2 separate regions of the Homo sapiens genome follow, and region 1 is linked to region 2. Evidence: fine-mapped expression QTL. A gene starts in region 2. The other region holds a variant in brackets. All regions are shown on one strand. Distances are from middle to middle.

Region 1 (2,902 bases), 170 kb after region 2:
TAATCGCAGCACTTTGGGAGGCTGATATGGGTGGATCCCTTGAGCCCAGGAGTTTGAGACCAGCCTGGCAACATGATGAAATCCTGTCTCTATAAGAAATACAAAAAATAGGCAAAGTCGTGTGCACCTGTAGTCCCAGCAACTTGGGAGGCTGTGGTGGGGAGGATTGCTTGAGCTTGGAAAGTCGAGGCTTCACTGAGCTGTGATTGTACCACTGCACTCCAGCCTAGGTGATAGAGCAAGACTCTTTCAACTCAGAGCGAGTGAGAGAGAGAGAGAGAGAGAGAGAGACTGAGATCCTCAATAAGATTAACATGAATTATCAGCAGAAACCATGGAAGCCAGAAGGCAGGAGGATGACATATTCAAAGTGCTAAAAGACAGACTGTCAGCCAAGAATTCTATGTATGCAGAAATTTGTAGTATGCAGGAATACTATGCTTTTATGCCTCGAAAATGAAAGAGAAAGTAAGATATTCTCAGATATACAAAAATTGAGAATTTTTTTCACTAGCAGACCTGCCCTGCAAGAAATGCTAAAGAGAATATTTCAGGCTAAAATGAAAGGACCATACACATGAACTCAAATCCACATGAAGAAATAAAGGGCACTGGTAACTACATAGGTATATTATAAAGTCAGTATTAATATATTTTTGATTTGTAACTTCTCTTTTCTCCTATGTGATTTAAAAGATAACTGCATAAAACAATAATTATAGAATTATATTGATAGGCATATAATTTAGAAAAATGTAATTTGTCTAAAACTAATAGCACAAAGGAGGAAGGAGGAAATGGAGTTATACTGAAGCAAAGTTTTTCATATGATGGAAATTAAGTTGGTATTAATCCTAACTAGATTATTTTGAAATAAGATATTAATGATAATCCCCAGACCAGCCACTAAGAAAGTAACTCAAAAATGCATACTAAAAGATACAACAAGGGAATTAAAATAGTGTACTATTTAAATGAAATGCAAGGCTAAAATGATAGAAAATATCTACCACAAAAGCAAGCATGAAGAAATAGAGAAACAAAAAATATTTAAGACTTATAGAAAACAAATAGCAAAATAACAGACATAAATCCTACCAAATCAATGACTATGACCACATTAAATGTAAATGGACTAAACAATCCAATCAAATGCCAGAGATTGTGCTGGGTATGTTGGCTTATGCCTGTAATCCCAACACTTTGAGAGGCCAAGGCAGGAAGACTGCTTGGGGCCAGGAGCGTGGGACCAGCCTGGGCAATAGAGCAAGGCCCCATCTCTACAAAAAGAATTTTTTTAAGTAACCACGCATGATGACATGCACCTGTAGTCCTAACTACTCAGGAGGTTGAGGTGGGAGGATCACTTGAGCCCAGGAAGTTGAGGCTGCAGTTAGCCAAGATCATACTGTGTCCGGAATTGGTGGGTTCTTTGTCTCACTGACTTCAAGAATGAAGCCACGGACGCTCGGACGCTCGCAGTGAGTGTTACAGCTCTTAAGGTGGCGCGTCTGGAGTTTGTTCCTTCTGATGTTCTGATGCGTTCAGAGTTTCTTCCTTCCGGTGGGATCGTGGTCTCGCTGGCTCAGGAGTGAAGCTGCAGCCCTTCGCGGTGACTGTTAACAGCTCTTAAAGCAGCACGTCTGGTGTTGTTTGTTCCTCCCGGTGGGCTCGTGGTCTCGCTGGCTTCAGGAGTGAAGCC[G/A]CAGACCTTAGCGGTGTTACAGCTCATAAAAGCAGCGTGGACCCAAAGACTGAGCAGTAGCAAGATTTATTGCAAAAAGCAAAAGAACAAAGCTTCCACTGTGTGGAAGGGTACCCGAGCGGGTTGCCACTGCTGGCTCTGGCAGCCTGCATTTATTTTCTTATCTGGCCCCACCCACATCCTGCTGCTTGGTAGAGCTGAGTGGTCTGTTTTGACAGGGCGCTGATTGGTGCGTTTACAATCCCTGAGCTAGACATAAAGGTTCTCCACCTCCCCACCAGATTAGCTAGATACAGAGTGTGGACACAAAGGTTCTCCAAGGCCCCACCAGAGTAGCTAGATACAGAGTGTCGATTGGTGCATTCACAAACCCTGAGCTAGACACAGGGTGCTGATTGGTGTATTTACAAACCTTGAGCTAGATACAGAGTGCCGATTGGTGTATTTACAATCCCTGAGCTAGACATAAAGGTTCTCCAAGGCCCCACCAGAGTAGCTAGATACAGAGTGTCGACTGGTGCATTCACAAACCCTGAGCTAGACACAGTGTGCTGACTGGTGTATTTACAATCCCTGAGCTAGACATAAAGGTTCTCCACATCCCCACCAGACTCAGGAGCCCAGCTGGCTTCATCCAGTGGATCCCACACCTGTGCTGCAGGTGGAGCTGCCTGCCAGTCCCGTGCCTTGCGCCTGCACTCCTCAGCCCTTGGGTGGTCGATGGGACTGGGCACCGTGGAGCAGGGGGCGGCGCTCATTGAGGAGGTTCAGGCTGCACAGGAGCCCACAGAGGGGGTGGGAAGCTCAGGCATGGCGGGCTGCAGGTCCTGAGCCCTGCCCCACAGGAAGGCAGCTAAGGCCCGCCGAGAAATCGAGTGCAGCGCAGGTGGGCTGGGACTGCTGGGGGACCCAGTACACCCGCCGTAGCTGCTGGCCCGGGTGCTAAGCCCCTCATTGCCCGGGGCCAGCAGGGCCCGCCGGCTGCTCCGAGTGCGGGGCCCACCAAGCCCAGTCTAACCGGGAACTCCAGCTGGCCTGCAAGCACCTTGCGCAGCCCGGGTTCCCACTGGCGCCTCTCCCTCCACACCTCCCTGCAAGCTGAGGGAGCCGGCTCTGGCCTTGGCCAGCCCAGAAAGGGGCTCCCACAGTGCAGCGGTGGGCTGAAGGGCTCCTCAAGTGCCGCCAAAGTGGGAGCCCAGG
Region 2 (2,902 bases):
AGAGTCGCTGCCCGAGGGGAGATGAGACTCCATCCCCTGAGATTCAGAGGCCACGGAGGGCGGCTGGGGAGAGGGAAAGCTAGAGAATTCACACATTCACACACATACACACACACACACACACTCTCTCTCTCTCTCTCTCTGTCTCTCCCTCTCTCTCTCTCTCTCTCTCTCTCTCTCTCTCTCTCGGCTGGGCAACATAGTGGGAAAGGTCAGTCATGGGGAGGGAAGAGTTAAGGAGCAGAATGTCAAGGAGAGGGAAAAATAAAACCAGGATAGGCGGAGTAAAAGACTCGGAGGTGGGATGCCTTTGGAAGTTGGGGGTCCTGATGCAAGAAGTGGGGTGCTCGGGGCGAACTGTGTCAGGAAGGAGGTGGGGGGACAGGGGAAGACGCAGCCTGCGAGGCAGAAATCCGGCCAAGGGCAGGCGGCCGCCGCGTTCTCACCTGGGGGGTCCTTTCGGGGGGATTCTTCATCACCGCCTGGCGGAAGCTGTTATCTACGTAGGACGCCATCTCCCCTCTGGGAGCGGGCCGGGGCCGCTCCGCACCCTGGCCGGCCTCCTCCCGGCCCAGCGCCGCTGCTGCCTCCGCCCTGCGCGCTGCGCCCGCCCGCCCGCCCGCGACTAATCAGCCAAACCGCGGCGGCGGCGGCGCGGGGCCCGCGGGGGGGCGGCTCGGCTGGGCCCGGCGGCCGAGAGCGCGGTACAGGCGCGAGGGGCTGGACGCAGCCGGGAGGGTCGCGGCGCCCCTAGGCTGCCGTGCGATGCGGCCCGCAGGCGGAACTCCCCTTCCTCCTCCTCCTCCTCTTCCTCGCCGCTCCGCCGGCTTCCTCCGGCCCTGGCTCGACACGCCTCCCCGGCTCCACTCGGGGGACAGTGGCGGCTCCTCCTGGCCCCAGCGGGCCCGAGTTATTTTTAGGGAGGTACGAGTGGCAGTGGGGAGGGCTGTGGGCAGGCGGAGCCTCCTCCCCCACGGCGCTGAGGGTCGCCCCCTCCTCTCAGGGGCTTGCGCAGCCGCCGCCCAGGGGTCTCCGAGAATCACTTGGATCTTCCGCGTCCCCAGTCCTCGGGCGCCTCGGCCGCCGGTCGGGAGGACGGACCAGGTGGGTCTGGCTCAGGTCCGGGCGCTGCGAAGCCCGATCGCCTCGGCCGCCGCTCCTGGTCTCTGTCTACTGGGCTCGGCCGTCCCTCCCGACTGCTGCTGCATCCCCTCGGGCCGCCCAGCCGCCGCCGCCGCCGCCTCTGCTGCTCGGGCCGCCGCTGTGGGCTCCGCCGCCGCCGCCTCCCCCCATCAGCGCGCCCGGAGCGGAGCTGCCCCGGCGCCGGCGCCGCCGCGGCCAGAGCACCCGGCCCGGGCTGCAGCCCTCCGGCCCAGTCGCTCTCGGCAACTTTGTTCCTCGTCTGCGCGGGGCGGAGGAGGGGGAAGAGGGGGCCGCGGACAGCCCGGGTTCGGACTCCCGGCGCGGGCGTCCGAGGGCCGAAAGCCGAGAGCCGCGCACAGCCCCCTCGGAGAGAGTGTTTGGGAAGCGGCGATTCCCCTCCTCTTCCTCCGCCTCTTCCTCCTCCTGCGCCTTCTCCGGCCGCCGGAGCCGCTCCTCAGGGAGGAAGCGGCCTCTGGGGCTTGTTGCTTTGTGCTGCAACCATGGTGAGGAATGAGTGACAGCGTGGGGGCGAGTCGGCGGCCGCCGCATCATCGGGGGGCGGGGCAGCCCCGTCGCGCCGGGTCCCGCCTCCCCGCTCCCCGCCCGCCAGCGGCCGCGCCCTCGCGTCTGAGCGGCACCTTCGGCGGCGCCCAGGTGAGCAGCGCTCTGGCCGCAAGTGGGTCGCGGAGCCCTCGGCCGGGCTGTCGGGTCCCGCGCGCGGCCTGGACCCGAAGAGGGGGCGCAAGTCCTGGTGCCCCGGAGAGAAGCGCAGGGCTTTCCTCACGCAGTGTCCCCCACTGTCTCACGCCGCGCCCCCTCCCCACACCCGACGCGCCCTACTAGGAGACCCAGCCGCGTCGGGTCGCTGCTCCCCGCCCGCTCCTGGCGCCACGCCGCCGCCCAGGGGCTGAAAGCTAACCTTGGGCAAAAGACCGGCCCACCAGCCCGGGCTGTACTGGGCATTCTTTTTGAGCCCAAGAGTTGCGTCCGAGTTGCTTCTGTGGCGATAAATCCTCTTAGGATTTATTTTGCTTATTTGTAATTTGCTGCACCCTCCCCTGCTTTCCAAGCCCACTCTGGCACCTCAGACAGTAAAATGACCACGAAATTAGGCAGAGAGGTTTCAACACCAGACCCACTACCACCCCTAGACCAACAAACACTCCAGATTTAAAGTTGATCACTCCTTAGCGACAGACCAGGATGGCAAGTTCTGTGACATAATCAGAAACATTTATTGGTAGGTCTGGCTTTGCCTTGGACAGAACAAGCCTCCTCCTCTAGATGCTCAAATTTCCAAACCGGACCCACATGGTGCAGAAACAATACCTCGTCCTTCAAGATGTCACCGCTCCTGCTGATTCCCTCAGCTCCCCCCCACTCCTTGCCCCGGCCACGTAGAGGTGTGTTAAGGTCAGCCCAAGCATCGGGGACCACTCTGCTGTTCTGGTCCCAGGGATTTATTTTTGTTTGCCCCCACCCCCCACAAGTTCTTATTTTGATATCTATAGACACAATGAGTTTTATGTATGAGCTACTGCGTTGAACTTTTCAAACATGATTTTCAACATCTAGTTTAAACACTTGGAATAGATTGTCAGCTAACATTTTGGGGTTCCTTAAGTCACCTGTGTGCACTAAACAGCTTGTGTGACTTCCTAGCAAAGGGACTGTCCCTGCCCAACCTTGTGAAAGGGAATCTGAGTTACAAATTGTATCTGTAGACCTTTTTATATTACTCTTGCTGGAACTGCTTCTC

What was found. PIP is the estimated chance that this variant, and not a neighbour inherited with it, causes the effect.
Region 1: its variant is fine-mapped to the expression of RAPGEF2 in whole blood (TOPMed, PIP above 0.99).

The regions. Positions count from the first base shown.
Region 1 is chr4:158,927,581-158,930,482 of GRCh38, reverse strand. The region is part of intron 3 of SPMIP2 (sperm microtubule inner protein 2); the gene reads left to right. Among named protein-coding and RNA genes, the nearest start is that of SPMIP2, 110 kb to the left of the region's middle. The variant G/A (reference allele first, on the strand shown) is at 1,703.
Region 2 is chr4:159,101,776-159,104,677 of GRCh38, reverse strand. RAPGEF2 (Rap guanine nucleotide exchange factor 2) reads right to left here and starts at 1,599. Exons shown (of 30, transcript NM_001394067.2): 1 at 447-1,599. The coding sequence starts at 515. RefSeq lists silencers at 460-879, 847-1,141, 890-1,179, 1,220-1,439, 1,570-2,109 and an enhancer at 1,758-2,449.